2 separate regions of the Homo sapiens genome follow, and region 1 is linked to region 2. Evidence: fine-mapped expression QTL. Tissue or cell type: aorta. Region 2 holds a variant in brackets; the other region holds the start of a gene. All regions are shown on one strand. Distances are between the middles of the regions.

Region 1 (8,108 bases), 83 kb before region 2:
GGCAATTAAAAAACAGAGATGGCAATACAACTTGTAGGCTATTGAACATATTCATTTTTCATAATTACTTGTTTTTTTCAGGTGGGTAAATTGCAAAAAACATAGGTAAAGAGTTCTATACTTTCTGGAAAAGACTTCCACCTTGGGATTGAGACAGTTTTGAACACAAAAGAAAACAAATTTTTTTCTCCAAGTACATGGTCTGTCATTTATCAGATTTAAGAAGTCTTGGGACATCTTTTGACAACATTTTCTCCAATGCATCCATGGAATCAAAGGACTTTTCAACTTGTTTGGGGGTAGATTTTTTGGTCTAAAGTTGGAAACATATGTCTTCTTTCAATAGAACAGTGGATGTCTGCACACGTATTTTTCAATGTTTACACCTACAAGTCTATGCACATTCAAGACATTGGCAACAGTGGTGTTATTGGCAAGGGTGGTTGGGATAGTTCCTTTTCACCATATACCTGTAGTATATGCCACAGGTTAGCTGTCAACTCCCATTCCAATGCATGTTTTCCTTTGCCTTCTTCACTGTGGATCAAAAAAGCTAAGAACTTACCTTTCAAGACCCCCTTGTGGCCAGGTGTGGCCATGAGATGTCAGCAGCAAATATCTTTTGGTCCTTTGCTCTTTGGCCTTTGGTCTTCCCTCTTCCTTCATCCTGGAATGCCAACATGATACTTGGAGTTCCAGCAGCCTTGGGAACAAAATCCACACATTAAGGGCAGCAAAGCAGGAGACAAGTGGTTCCTTAAGTAGCTTGCAAGTCTTATTCTACTGCTGAAATCCTAGTTGTGAGAAAAATAATTCTCCCAAGATGTTGAATTTATTGCTTGTAAGAAGTAATGCAAAGTTGAAAGTAATCCTAACATTTGGTCGGTTTCTTTTTTCTTTTCAAAGTTTAGACCAAGTGCATGTATTACCTACTTTAAAAATAATAAAATTCTAAAAACAATGTAAAGTGTATATATAAATCTTTGTTGTATTTCTTAGATTTTTGAATAGTTCAAAAAACCTCTGTTTGGCTTTTTTATGACCTAAGTCTTTAGGTTATCAAAAAGTTATTCTAGTCTTTATCTTGACAAAGTAGTATAAGATAATATGCAGTGGTAGAGAAATATAGCTTTTGCAATATTCCCAAGTAAACACCTGAAAGCAAAGTTACCACCTGGTCCAGCAGCCAGTTGAGTTGGTGACATGCAAGAAGGCCCTACAGCCACCTGAATTCCTCTGTCAGAAGAGCTACCTTTGTTTTATTTGACAATCTTTGGACATCAGATGTAAGACAACCGCCCTGGAGTGTGAACTCTGGAGATACAAACTTATCAGACAATTTCTATTTCATTCAAGATGGCATGACTTTCATACACCAGCATCTGAAATTGTCTGAGATACTGACAACGAATGTGTAGGGACATTCACCAGGGAGCTGAGATTTTTATTTTGAGCTCTTTAAAACAGTGCCCCCCAGTGGTATGCAATAGAAAAAAAAAATCACAAGATTAATATATCCACATTGTTGGTGCAAACAGAACCCATTCCTGCTAGAATGAGCTGAAAAAGAGGCTAAGCATGGTGGCTCACATGTATAATCCTAGCACTTTGGCAAGCTGAGGTGGGAGGATCACTTGAGCCCAGGAGTTCAAGATCAGCCTGGGCAACATAATTAGACCCTGTCTCTATAAAGAATAAAAAAAAATTAGTTGGGCGTGGTGGTGCACACCTGTGGTCCCAGCAACTCGGGAGGCTGAGGCAGGAGGATTGCTTGAACCTGGAGGATTGCTTGAGCCCAGAAAGTTGAGGTTGCAGTGAGCTCTGATGACACCATTGCACTCCAGCCTGGGTGACAGAATGAGACCCTGTTTATAATAATAATAATAAAGAAACAGAAAAAGTATATATTAAGGGTATTATTTGTCCCACTACTAGCTCAAAGTACAAATGGAAAAGCCAACCATTCCTCAAGAAACATCACTCCCCAGTTGAAGTGGAATTCCAAATGTTATAATCAATATGTGTTGACTACGAATGTGAATAGTGCCCCTGTGAACTTGTGCAATGTACACCTACACCATCCATATGTAGCCCTGGATATTAAGTGGTTCAAATAATTTCTGGAAAGGTTCAAGAATCAAGCTTGGAAGCCACACAGTCATCAACCATTCCCAAAATTATACTGCAGGTTTGCTATATGGGAGACCTAGAGTCACTGCTGCTTGGCATAGACACCACATATGATCGATGAAGACTGGGCCACTTATGTACATCCTAGCTGCAAGAGATGCTGGGGAAGCAAGTTCTTGGAGTCAACTTGGGGAGGTGCTGACTCATGAAGTTGGAAATCCCTAAATTTAGGAAGGTATTTGTGATGGTGAATTTTAATGTGTCATCTTGACTGGGCTAATGGATGCCCAGATAGCTATTAAATATTATTTCTGGGTGTGTCTGTGAGGATGTTTCTGGAAGAGATTAGCATTTGAATCGGTAGACTGAGCAAAGAAGATCACCTTCATCTATGTGAGTGGAGTGGGCATCATCCAATCTGTTGAGGGCTTGAATGGAGCAAAAAGACAGTGGAAGGCAAATGTGTTCTCTGCTGGAGCTGGGCCAACCAGCTTCTCCTGTCCTTGGACATCAGCATTCCTGGTTCTTGGGTCTCTGGACTCAGATTGGGCCTTATGTCATTGGCTCTCCTGCTCTTGGGCCTTCAGGCTTGGACTGGATTACACCACTGGCTTTCCTGGGCCCCCAGCTTGCAGACAGCAGACTGTGGGACTTCTCAGCCTTCATAATCGCATGAACCAATCCCTCATAATCTCAATTACTCCCCCCACCCTCTCTCTATATGTATGTGTATATAAAATTTATTGGTTTTGTTTCTCTCAAGAACCCTGACTAATGTAGGGTTCAAAGGCTTTGGGGATCATTCTAAAAGCAAGACGAAAGACAAATGTCCACCAGAGCTTGCAAATACTGTATTTATCAATCCCTCCTCTTCTTGGCATAGTTTCTTTCAAACTTCTTAGTGTCCTCTTCCCATTATTACAAACTTCTCGTTTCTTCTAAGGTCCTTCTAAATTGGTGAGTTCTCAGTGGGAGTTGAGTGACCTTTTCCCTCAGTGTGACTATCACTGCCCAATGTCATTGATACATTATACAACTCCCCATCCCCACTTCCCCTCAGCTCCTGTTAACCACCATTCTTTCTGTCTCTATGAATTTGACTACTCTAGATTCCCCATGTAAATGGAATCATACAGTATTTGTCTTTTTGTGACTAGCTTATTTCACTTAACATAATACTCTCAAGGTTCATCCATTTTGTAGCATCTGCCAAAATTTCCTCCCTTTTAAGGCTGAACAGTATTCCATTGTACGTAGATACTGCATTTTGCTTTTCCATTCACACAAAGAGAGACACTTGGGTTGTTTCCGCCTCTTGGCTATTGTGTATAATGCTGCTACCAGCATGGGGTACAAATATGAGAAGTGAGGTTTAGGATCGTGTGAGGAGGATCACTTGTAGAGGGAAAATAGTGAAATAGGACGACCAGATAGGCTCTGTTGGAACTCGCGCCCATTGTTTTAAGACGCAGCTCAAATGTCACCTGGTTTTAGAAGTCTTCCTGGTCTCCGCAGGCAGTCAGTATCTCTTTCCTAAATCCACCACATTCCCGTAGACAGACACCACATTTATGCAAATCTCCTTCTCACAGACAGTGAGTTCCATGGGGGTCCCCTGGCAGCCTCCAGCCCTGTACCATGCTAACTCTTCCGGAGAGGAAATGGGGCCTCGGGAGAGCCTTTGAAGCCTGTGTTGGTACAGGCTGTCCTTCCAGCTAACGGGGCTCTCTGGGGAATGTATGTTTGACTTTCTATTCCCGGTAATATAAGTTCAAATGTTTGTGGATATTTGAAGCTCGGATGAAAGCGTTTCTATTCATGCCCCTAGAATCTGTGAGGCCTTTTCTTTCTTTTTTTTTTTTTAAACAAGAGCCCACAGCAAAACTTGGGTTACTTGGCTGAGGAAAGGAATGTAGAGCTAGGAGCAGGGTTTCATCTTCAGCCCCAGTCGGGCAAACCAGTGGCAGAAGGGAAAGCAGAGCCCAGGGGTCCCCATCCCGTACCTGGGGCGCAGGCCCCGCTGGGGTGGGAGGGAGAGTGGAGGGCCGGGCAGGCTGCAGCCGCGGATGGCTGCCCCCCCTGCCCCGGTGTTACTGGGAGGACGGAGGTTGCGACAGCAGCCGAGCCCACCCAGTTGCAGCCGGCTCGGGGCTTAGGGCAGGGGCGGGAGGTGACCACCGCGCCGCTGGCCGCCTCGCCCAGACATTCCGTTTCTGCCGCTGGAATGCGCGGACAAGGCTCCTTGTTGGCCTTGGGCGGGGTTCGCCGGGCCGGCCTGGCGCTCGAGGCCCCGGGGCGGGGCGGGGCCCGAGGCCGCGGGACCTTTAAATCCGAGCCTCGCGTGGGCTCCTGGCCCCCGACGGACACCACCAGGCCCACGGAGCCCACCATGCCGCGCCCGGCCCCCGCGCGCCGCCTCCCGGGACTCCTCCTGCTGCTCTGGCCGCTGCTGCTGCTGCCCTCCGCCGCCCCCGACCCCGTGGCCCGCCCGGGCTTCCGGAGGCTGGAGACCCGAGGTCCCGGGGGCAGCCCTGGACGCCGCCCCTCTCCTGCGGCTCCCGACGGCGCGCCCGCTTCCGGGACCAGCGAGCCTGGCCGCGCCCGCGGTGCAGGTACAGGCGGGCGGCGGGAGGGACGCGTGAGCATCGAACGAGGAGAAGCCCAGGGCATCCACCAAGCGCGCTTCATCCCGGCCTCAGGCCGACCGTGGTGCGGGGGAAAGAGGCCCCTCCCGGATGAATCCTGTGGGGGAAACTGAGGTCCAGAGAAGGGGAGGGAGATGCCCAATATCACTCATGTGTCCAGGCTAGAGATGTGGGTCTCCTGAAGCTCTCACTCCCCTGTGATTCGGCCAGGAGCACAGGGCAGCTGGGGAGCGCAGGGGCTGCTGCCCAGCGGCTGCTGCTAAGCTCCGTCCCAGTCCTGACCTCTCCATTCAGTGAGCAAACCCTTCCTGAGACTCTGCTGTTAGTTCTCTTGGAATCTCTCCATCTCCATCCAATATCAGGGCGTGATCTTTCCTCCCCTCCCACAGTCCTCAGGCTGCCTCAGACTGGAAGGTAAGGGATGCGGGTGTGAGACCAGGAGGAGATCCGAGGAGCCGTAGGATACCCCAGGATCAAGACACTCTGGGTCTTTGGCGAACAATTCTATTTCTCTTTTTGGTCAGCAATTGATTCCTGAAGCAGAGCAAAGCTCATAGTGCAGCGAAGCGGGCAGGTCGTCTGACACAGCCCCTGACAGCACATGAAGGGAAACTGAGGCATATCAAGTTGAAGGGACTCTGTGAATCAGTATCAGAGGCCACAATAAAATTCAGGGCTCCGAAATCCCAAGCAAGGTCTCTTTCCACTGCCCCAGCCTACCAACCTCTTAATATGGTTTACATAAGATTGTATCTTCATTTCCAAAAAGCGCAGCTTCAGTCTTGCTAAAAAGAGTCTGTGCCAGGCCATTTCTGGGTATGCAGTCTCATTTGGCCAGCCACGCTGCATGCCTCAGGCTGATTTCAATTGTCTATCCCCTTCTGCATCTTTCTGGATAAGCTGAGAAGGAGCTCAAGGGACTCTTTCCTGACTCAAATACTCAGTCCCCGTATTTGAAGTGGCAGATTTGAAATGGCAAAAGCATTGCTGCTAAGGCAGGAGGTACCGGGGTCCACAGGGCTAGATTCAGCTGGTGGCTGGTTGCTCCAGGCCGGGAATTGAGGGAAAGCCTTTCTTCTGGAAGTTAATCTTACTCTAGTCCTGACCTGCCTCCCTCTGGGATGGGACTGGAAGAGGAAGGAGAGATTCAGCACCAGGTGGCCATGTCCCCCTAAGCTTTACTGGTCTTTCATTACCTAGAGTCCGAACCTGATCATGAATGATAACCCATTAATAAATGCGAGATTCCACCCTGTTCCAAATTATCTCCTTTTAGCAACCAGAAATTGCTAAGCTTCGCTATGGATTTTTATTTCTAGCAGGACTGTAAGGACTCAGTGGTATTATGAGTATGGGAACATTTTAGGAGATTCAGATTCTTTCTTTGTTCTTGGGAATCAAATTGCTGCTATTTAGTAAATGGGAGTGAGATTCAAAAACAACTAATGATTGATGCGGAGTACCAGTCAGGAAGGAACCAGATGTTCACAGAATTTTCTGCCACCATGGTCAAGCCTCAGGTATTAGTTTTCTATGGCCACTGTAACAAATTACTGTGAATTTAGTGCCTTAAGACAACACACATTTATTACCTGAGAGTTCTGTGGGTCAGAAGTCTGACCCTGGTCTCACTGGGCTAAGATGAAGGTGTCGGCAGGGCTGTGTTCCTTTTGGGAGGCTCTAGGGGAGACTGCATTTCCCTTCCCTTTCCACCGCATGAAGGCTGCTGAGTTCCTTGGCTTATGGCCTTTTTCTTCCATTTTCAGAGCCAGCTAAAGCAGGTTGAGGCCTTCTCCCATTGAGTTACTCACATTTCTTTCATCTGCCTCCCTCTTCTACTTTATAATTACATTGACTCACTGAATAATCCAGGATAACCTCTTGTGTAGAGCTCTTTGACTTAATCACACCTGCAAAGTCTCTGCTCTTTGCCACGTAAAAGTAACATGTCTCTGGAATTAGGACGTGGACGTCTTTGGCGGGGGACATTATTCTGCATACCACACCCCGAATAGAGGATTCGGTGTGAATAACCAAGTGGAGAAGGAAAGAATCATGCACGTTTAGTTATAAGAACATAGCCATGATATTTATAAGGACACCATTTGGGTGCTGGTGAAAGCACTGTCAATTACAGAGTTCATATCTTCATGTTACCCCCACCTTTTCTTTTTCTAATTATACAAAAATACTTTGACCCATCTCCAGGAAAGATTTTCAACATAATTCTTCTTCCTAGCTCTAGATCTATGGGACTTTCCAGGAATGAAGTAAAATTCTGGAGGTTTTTTTTTTTTTTTTTTTTTTTAGTATTTGAAGAGATTTATTCTGAGACAAACATGAGTGACCATGGTCTGTGACACAGCCCTCAAGAGGTCCTGAGTACATGTGCTCAAGATGGTCAGGGTGCAGCTTGTTTTTATACAATTTAAGGAGGTATGAGACATCAATCAAATACATTTAAGAAATACATTGGTTTGGTCCTAAAAGGTGGGACAACTCAAAGCCGGTGGTGGTGAGGGGCTTCCAGGCTATAGGTAAGTTTAAATATTTTCTGGTTGATAATTGGTTGCATTTGCCTAAAGACCTGGGATCCATAGAAAGGAAATGTTCAGGTTAAGATAAAAGACTGTAAAGACCAATGTTCTTTTGAAGTCTTATAGTGGCTACCCTTAGAGACAATAGATGACAAATGTTTCCTATTCAGATCTTTTTAAAAAATTATTATTATTTTACTTTAAGTTCTGGGATACATGTGCAGAATGTGCAGGTTTGTTACATAGGGATACATGTGCGCTGGTGGTTTGCTGCACCCATCAACCCATCATCTAGGTTTTAAGCCCCACATAGATTAGGTATTTGTCCTAATGCTCTCCCTCCTCTTGCCCCCCACCCCCTGACAGGCGCTGGTGTGTGATGTTCCCCTCCCTATGTCCATGAGTTCTCATTGTTCAACTCCCACTTATGAGTGAGAACATGTGGTGTCTGGTTTTCTGTTCCTGTGTCAGTTTGCTGAGAATGACGGCTTCCAGCTTCATCCATGTCCCTGCAAAGGACATGGACTCATTCTTTTTTATGGCTGCTGGAGTTGTTTTTTTTTTTTTTAAAGAAAGAAAGAATTTTGATTCCTTTTTTTTTTTTTTGGCTTTTAGAGACTGGGTCTCATTCTATCATCCAGGCTGGAGTGCAGTGGTGTGATTGTGGCTCACTGCAGCCTTGACTCTCTAGCTTTAAGCGATCCTCCTGCCTCAGCCCCCTAAGCAGCTGGGACTACAGGTGCCTGCCACCATGCCTGGCTAATTTTTAAACTTTTTATAGAGATGAGGTCTCCCT
Region 2 (8,108 bases):
TAGTATTATAAATTTTAAATAGAGTTATAGAAGAATTTTTAATAATATGGGAAGGTGTACATAATATTTAAGTAGGAAATACAGGATACAAAATTGTGTATTGTGTGATTGTGTACAACACAAACATATACATATATATTCAAAGGACAAAGATGTTAAGAAATTGCACCAGAGTATTGAGAGAGGTTTCTTATGAATGATAAGATTATGAGTAATTTCACTTTTTCATGTTTTGTAATTTTTTTTACAGATAGAATGTATTCCCTTATAATCAGAAAAATATAAGCATTGTTTTAAAAGTTGGATATAAAATATACTTTCATACTTCCAAACATATTGTAGAAGGGTTGGGGAGGGAAAACCTCTGGCTAATTAGATATTCTGAAAGAAAAAAAATGATGTTCTGAAAATGGCCAGTGCAGCTGAACAAGTAGGATTTTTTTTTGTGGTGGTGGTGGTGGTGGTGGTGGTGGTGGTGGTGGTGGTGGTGGTGGTTCTTCCTCGCTGCCACCACTTTCCAAGAGAGCTCTGTTTTGGGTCTAGCTTCCTGAACTGATTAATGGCAGACTTCTCTAGGACATTTCTTTATAGAGGTATTTGAGGGCTCTGTGAATGTGAGATTTCCCTTAAGTCTCTAGTTAATAATTAGCACTGAGTATACCACCAATTGATATAAAGGCTTTTTTCACCCACTGGTGGGGGATTTGTTTTGGAGCTTGACATTTCTGTATACTAGCTACTGAACTGAGATAAGAAAGGAGTGCAGTGTCTTCAGGGCCTCGTTAAAAATCAGATCCACAGCCTGAGCCAGTGAAGCTCTGGATTTATAGAAGTGATGCCTTAGCATCCATTCTCATTTGTACCCTCTGCCCTTGCGTCTGTTTACAAGAAAAATCTGTAACTACCAGTAAATTTAATACTCATACGTCCCTACGGAGTTTTGTTAAATTAAAATATAAGTAATTTCCTTGGTCTGTGAAATCTGATAGTATTGTTTTGTTTGTACAGGAAATAGCACAAATGTTTGTCAGAGTTGGAATGTGTGAACAAGCAGTGACTGCATTTTTGAAATGTAGTCAACCAAAGGCAGCAGTAGATACCTGCGTACATCTCAACCAAGTAGGAACTGAAACTTTCTGTCTGTGCAGCTTATTGTCTTAGGAATTTTTAAGTCAAAGCAAGGTTAAAGTCACCCTAGTGATCTTTTAAAGATTATTGCCAATGTAAGGGTTGGAGAGCCTGACGTGAATTTTATGAAAGGAGCCAGGCGGGTATTCTCTTAATTGAGGATGAAGAAAGTTGCACTTACCTCTTAAAGTGCTACCATGAGGGGTGACCCACTTATAACCAGCTCAGTATGGGAGCATGAACAAACCTTGTGCTTTTAGTCTGGCAAGTTTTTGTCTGGAAGTAATTTCATAATTTTCTGCATTTTGTTAGGGTTGGGTTTTGTTTCCAAAGAAGGACCAGTTAATGGTTGGTCATTGCCTGAGGAAGGAATTGAGTTACTTTATCAATATTTATTTTGGCAAATCTGTTTTCCTTTTCCTTTATAGAAAACATACATTTGATATTTTTAAGAGCTGAAATTAAACTAAAAGTACAGCGTTATTATAGAAACTATTGACTATTAATGTATTCTTTTAATATTTTTCTTATTTTTTAAAACCCCTTTTGCTTTATAAAAATAATTTTTAAATGTCAAATCTGATAGGACATTTTCACAACTGAAATTGCATATTTTGTTTTACTATAACATATAAACAAGTGTATCTTTCTTGCTTGAAGTTTTGTAAGATTAGAATTACAAGATTAATATGATTATAAACTTTGAAACTTTCATTTTCACATGTATTTCTTAAGCAAATCAGAGTCTTAGAGATCATTTAATCATTTTGACTTATGCTTATAGGACTTATGTTGCTGTGATTTTAAATGCTATTTTTAAAACATACCAGTTTTTAATTTTGAAATAGTGTTTTTACTATAAACTTAAAGCTTTCTTGTGTGAATTTTATGATATATGTGACTGTAAATACTTGGGTGACTGAATGGTGTAATTTTTCTCCTAGTGGAACAAAGCTGTTGAATTGGCTAAAAATCATAGTATGAAAGAAATTGGATCTCTGTTAGCTAGGTATGCATCTCATTTACTGGAAAAGAATAAAACTCTTGATGCCATAGAACTCTATCGGAAAGCCAATTACTTTTTTGATGCAGCTAAACTGATGTTTAAGGTAATGTAAAAATCTTGGTGAATAGTTGATTTGTTCCAGTCACAATATTTTAATATATGAAAGAGCATATTCTCCATTTTCTTTGGAAACAAATATTTATTACAGCAAAACCACTCTGGTTTTATTGCTTCTGTATACATTATTTTAGTATTATTGCCTTTTACCAACAAAGATGTTTATTAATATTAGCAACTTACTAATACCTAAACAATTGTATGTTGAATACTGGAGTTAACAAAGAGTTAAAGAAATTACTGAGACTGCAAAGTACAAATTTCTACAACAGGGAATTAAATTTTGTTGATAATAGAGTTTTAAGTTCTTTTAAATGTACAAGTTTTAAATATTACGCTTTACATAATATTTATTTGGAGGGAAGATAATTAGTACAGTATTAATGTATACACATTTTACCTTCTATTCTATTCCCATTTGATTTAATGAAAAAGGAAAAATATCTCTTAAAATCATTTAAATAAGTTTCAGCTTCTGAAGGATGCACCATGTTAACACTATCATATCTTTGTGTACTTGGAACATTATTTTAAAAATCTCTGTATTATGGAAAATACCAGCATTTCATCAATACTTTCTTTATTCTGATTTAGTTATCTAACAGCACCTCTCATTTTCTAAGAGTGATCTGAATTCCAACTCCTAGGGCTAAATACTAAGGAAAGAACTAAATACGAATAGGTACTAATGAAAAGAAGATAGGTTTTAAAATATTTATCTTAAATAGGTGATATTTATATTCCATCTTACTGATTTTCCTCCTTTTTTAGGGAATCAAATTTGTTAGTTTTGGAAATGATTGTATTTGTACAAATATAGATAAGAAGTAACTTCCCTCAATTTTGAAAAATGTTTAAGATTGCAGATGAAGAGGCAAAGAAAGGAAGTAAACCTTTACGTGTCAAGAAGCTCTATGTACTGTCAGCCTTACTTATAGAGCAATACCATGAACAGATGAAGAATGCCCAGCGAGGAAAAGTTAAAGGAAAAAGTTCAGAGGTAAAGTAGCACGTTAAATAACATTACATCATTGGAAGTGTTTAAGAAAAAAAAAAAAAGAAACTATTAAACTTCTTTTATGGATAGGTCATTTAATTTGCATGTCTGCATTTGTTTCCTTAAATGATATGAAGAAAAAGAATGACTGATTTAGAATTAGTATTCAAATTCAGAAATTTCTACCTAGAAATATTGAAATTGTTTTTCTGTAATACTAATCTGTAGTCTTTGCTTTAATGTCT[T/G]ATTTGTTAAAAAATTTTACTTACCTGGGAAATCTTCCTTTCTAATCAGTGAGTTTTAAAACTTTCCTAGATATATTGTTGTAATGCGTAAATGAATGTCTGATTAACTTAGAATCTAATTAGTTATATTTTAAAATTTATTCATACCAGTTTAACAAACTATGAATTATAATAAAAAATTAAATCTGTTTTGGGTGCAGTGCTCACACCAGTGATCTCAGTGACTAGGGAGGCTTAGGTGGGAGGATCACTTGAGTCCATGAGTTTGAGACTGCAGTGAGCTATGACCACGCAGCTGCATTCCAGCTTGGGTGACAGAGTAATACCTCATCTCTTAAAAAAAAAAGTCTGTAATCATAGTTTTGTAATGATAAAATCTGCTCATTTAGATACTTTAATGACTGTTGTTATTTGGGAGTTGACACTGTGTGTGCGTTTGTGCTGACGGAAAGTGTGGGCTGACTTTACTCGTAGGCCACTTCTGCCTTGGCTGGTTTGCTGGAAGAAGAAGTTCTGTCTACAACAGATCGTTTCACAGATAATGCATGGAGAGGGGCAGAGGCTTACCACTTCTTTATACTTGCACAGAGGCAGCTCTATGAGGGATGTGTGGACACTGCACTGAAGACAGGTGGGCATGTCACCTAATGTGTATAGTATGTCTGAAAATTATAAATTGAGTATGAAGGGCTAGCTTCTTCAATTTGCCTTTATGTGGCCTTCAATAACATTTTTTCCTATGGATTTATTTTCCTATGTTTGAGTCTTATGCATTCCCATTTTTGAAGTTTTTTTTAATACAGAGAAAACACATAGTTCACAGAAATGTCAGAAATTTGAGATAAGCAAAAAGAATGTGTATAGCATTCATATGGCTAGCCATTCAAAGTTAAATACTTCATAGCCAAGTTCATATTTTTTGGAGAAAAATATATATACATATATCTATTAAATATATTTAATACATATATTTAAATACATAAAATATATTTAATACATACATTCAGATAATTTTATTCTTTACAATATCGGGAGTATAACATGGCATACTTTTATGTACTTTTTGAAAACCACGTTTTAAAATATTTCCATATTTTACATATACATTGCTATAGCATTTATCTTGTGTTTTATAAAAGTGATACTTAGCTAATAATTTCAACCAAAACAGAAAAATATGAAGAAAAAGTAAAATAATCTAACAATTTGTAAAATAATCCTATAACTCAGAGGTAATCATTGCTAAGGTTTGGGTAAACTTCCTTTTAGATGTTTCTACATGCAGGAGCATGGTTTTTTCCCTCAGCAGTATATTATAGTTCTTTCCTCATTCTTAAACAGAGATCTATATAAACATTCTACCTAATATTCCATGGTATTTGTATACTGTAATTGATAGAAGATTATTTACATGTAATATCAGGATCTCAATTTCTTCTTAACAATAACAATATTCTAGAATTTAGATATATGAACTCCAGAGAGTGTAATTATGATAATTATGTTGTAAGCCAAAGCATATGAATGACTAAATCATTACTGGTCTTTCAGCTTGGCCATGGCAAGCACTGTCATGACACCCCACCCTTCCTCTGTCATATTGGTGACATCATCCATTTGCTGCTCACATCATCACCATATGCACATCACACTCTAATCCTAATACATCATGAATCTGTATTCCAATGGCATGATATTAAAAGAAAACTTTTAGAGAAATTCTTTTATTTGAATATTTCTGGAATTCTATAGTGATGATTTTTATTTTTAATTATTTTTATAAGAGCTCTTTAGAGACCATATGTAATAATCGTCTTTCATATATATTGATTTTCCCTAGCATTTATAAGTTATAGTTACTTGATCCTTTCTAAGCTTCAGTTTCTCTTTGTGTAAAGAAAGGATAATAGTATCTTCCTCAGCCGGGTGCAGTGGCTCATGCCTGTAATCCCAGCACTTTGGGAGGCTGAGGCGGGTGGATCACAAGGTCAGGAGATCGAGAGCATCCCGGCTAACACGGTGAAACCCTGTCTTTACTAAAAATACAAAAAAATCAGCTGGGTGTAGTGGCAGGTGCCTGTAGTCCCAGCTACTTGGGAGGCTGAAGCAGGAGAATGGTGTGAACCTGGGAGGCGGAGCTTGCAGTGAGCCGAGATCGCACCGCTGCACTCCAGCCTGGGTGACAGAGCGAGACTCCGTCTCAAAAAAAAAAAAAAATAGTATCTTCCTCATAGAGTTATTGTAATGATTGAGAAGTTCATGAAAAGAAAACTCACTTATTATGCTGCCTGGACATTGTGAGCCCTCAATAAGTGGTAGCTGTGATGATGATATTAATAGTTTTTTTTATATAGTCATGTCTGTCAGTCTTTTACTTCATATTTTTCTCTTAGGAATCATGCTTAGGAATTCCTTCAAGTTTGTTAAATATTATGTTTATTATAACATCTAAGTTATCCTGAAACCATATATTAGGTTTATTCTTTCTTAACAGATTTGAAATTCTACCTTAATGTGCCGAGACCAGCTCAGTCAGGGAGACCCTAACCAAGCGGCGCTAGAGGAATTAAAGACACACACACAGAAATATAGAGGTGTGAAGTGGGAAATCAGGGGTCTCACAACCTTCAGAGCTGAGAGCCCCGAACAGAGATTTACCCACGTATTTATTAACAGCAAGCCAGTCATTAGCCTTGTTTCTATAGATATTCGATTAACTAAAAGTATCCCTTATGGGAAACGAAGGGATGGGCTGAAATAAAGGGATGGGTCTGGCTAGTTATCTGCAGCAGGAGCATGTCCTTAAGGCACAGATTGCTCATGCTACTGGTTGTGGTTTAAGAACTCCTTTAAGCAGTTTTCTGCCCTGGGCGGGCCAGGTGTTCCTTGCCCTCATTCCAGTAAACCACAACCTTCCAGAGTGGGTGTTATGGCCATCATGAACCTGTCACAGTGCTGCTGAGATTTTGTTTATGGCCAGTTTTGGGGCCAGTTTATGGCCAGATTTTGAGGGGTGCCTGTTCCCAACATGTCCCCCTTCTTTGATTTGCAAATCTATAAAGGCAAGGACAGCTTTGTCATGGTGAGCTACTTCTTGCAGGAGTCAGGATCCACATCTGCAGACTATAGAAAGACAAACAACACAGATTAAAAGCACAATCATCATTGAAATTACAGGGCTTCCAAGTGTTTTTATCCATTTTAATGGATTACTAGCTGCTAATCTGTCTGCAGCTCCTTTAAGCACTCCAGTTCTTGGCATTAAGGTCAGGTGTCCCTGGGATGCTTTGAATATTTGTTCTTTTAATTTTGCTATATCCAAAAACAAGTTTGTAGAGTGTCCTTCTAGACGCTTTTTTATTCTTTCCCAAATTTTGATCTTGTTAAGAGCTATTAATAGTTTCCACAAATCCTTAATGTTTAGCTCCTAGAGCGGGCCATATCATTTGAGGTTGAGGTGCCACTATACCACCATGGTTCTAGATAATAGGAACTCTTGCCGTACTTCTTATTATATCTACCACCTGAACATTTTGTTGAGACCATCTGAACATAAGTATGGCATGGCACACAGACTGAGAAGTGCAATTCAAGCTAAACATCCCCTTAGGGGACCAATTAATAATGATTCCATAGGAATCATTGTGCAGCACCTCTGCCTGTTCTGCAATGCAATCTTCCTAAACAAGTACGTTCATTTTTTTCTGGCCAGGTTCAATTTTGTTTACAAATAGGTTTTTGAGGGCGGTATGCCTCAATTATAGGAGCAGATTTATTATGGTAAATACTGAGATCAGAAAGCTGTGTAACAGCATCATAGAGTGATTACATCTAGGCATTATTGCCAGCCAAGATTGATAAATATGCCCAATAAGTGTAATTGTTCCCTGTGTCAGCCCTTACTGAAGGAATACTCATAGCAGTGGTGATAACAGCTATCATAGCTACCATTAAATTACTCATTGTGACTGGTTGTCCCACTTTCCTCAGGTTTTCTTCCGCCATCTGTGACAGCTTCTTGATCTGTCCCCAGTTAGTTGACTGTGTTCAACGGGTGTTGCTTGCGACAGCTGGGGTCCTCCTCAGTGTCAGTCTCGAAATGGCTGCAACAGGGTGGGGGGGGTCCTCGAGATCCTCCCGGAATCTCTTCCTTGGCATCTGGCTCATGATAAGGTTTCAGGTGTCTTGATGGTATCCAAATCGGCTGTTGATTTTGGCCTGGAGAAACACAAGCATAACCTCTACCCCAAGTTATTATTTTACCTATTTCCCAACTTTTTGTTATCAGATCTCTCCACCAAACTAGTTGTTCTGCTTCTGTCTTTGCAGCTGGTTTCTGTAGATGCTGTTCAGCTGCTGATAACATCTGGCATTTGGGCAGGCTCAAAAAATTTAAAGTTAATAATGCTAGATTCAATTGTGTATGGGCTGTCCCATAATCCCTGTCTCTCCCTCTTTTTTGTTTTTGTCATCAGTTGTTCATCTGTATGAAATCATAACTGAGCATTTTCAATTAACTGTGTAGAATGAACCACGTATGAAGAATCAGATATCACATTAATAGGCAAATCAAAAGCAGTCATTACCTCAATTACAGCTACAAGCTTCGCTTTTT

What was found. PIP is the estimated chance that this variant, and not a neighbour inherited with it, causes the effect.
Region 1: it holds the start of MATN3, and the variant in region 2 is fine-mapped to the expression of MATN3 in aorta (GTEx, PIP above 0.99).

Annotation. Positions count from the first base shown.
Region 1 is chr2:20,009,043-20,017,150 of GRCh38, reverse strand. It overlaps MATN3 (matrilin 3), which reads left to right and starts at 4,483. Exons shown (of 8, transcript NM_002381.5): 1 at 4,483-4,742. The coding sequence starts at 4,520. RefSeq lists an enhancer at 4,767-5,379.
Region 2 is chr2:19,926,412-19,934,519 of GRCh38, reverse strand. WDR35 (WD repeat domain 35) reads left to right here. Exons shown (of 27, transcript NM_020779.4): 22 at 1,009-1,119; 23 at 2,073-2,237; 24 at 3,111-3,251; 25 at 3,968-4,124. Among named protein-coding and RNA genes, the nearest start is that of TTC32, 28 kb to the right of the region's middle. RefSeq lists an enhancer at 993-1,042. The variant T/G (reference allele first, on the strand shown) is at 3,494.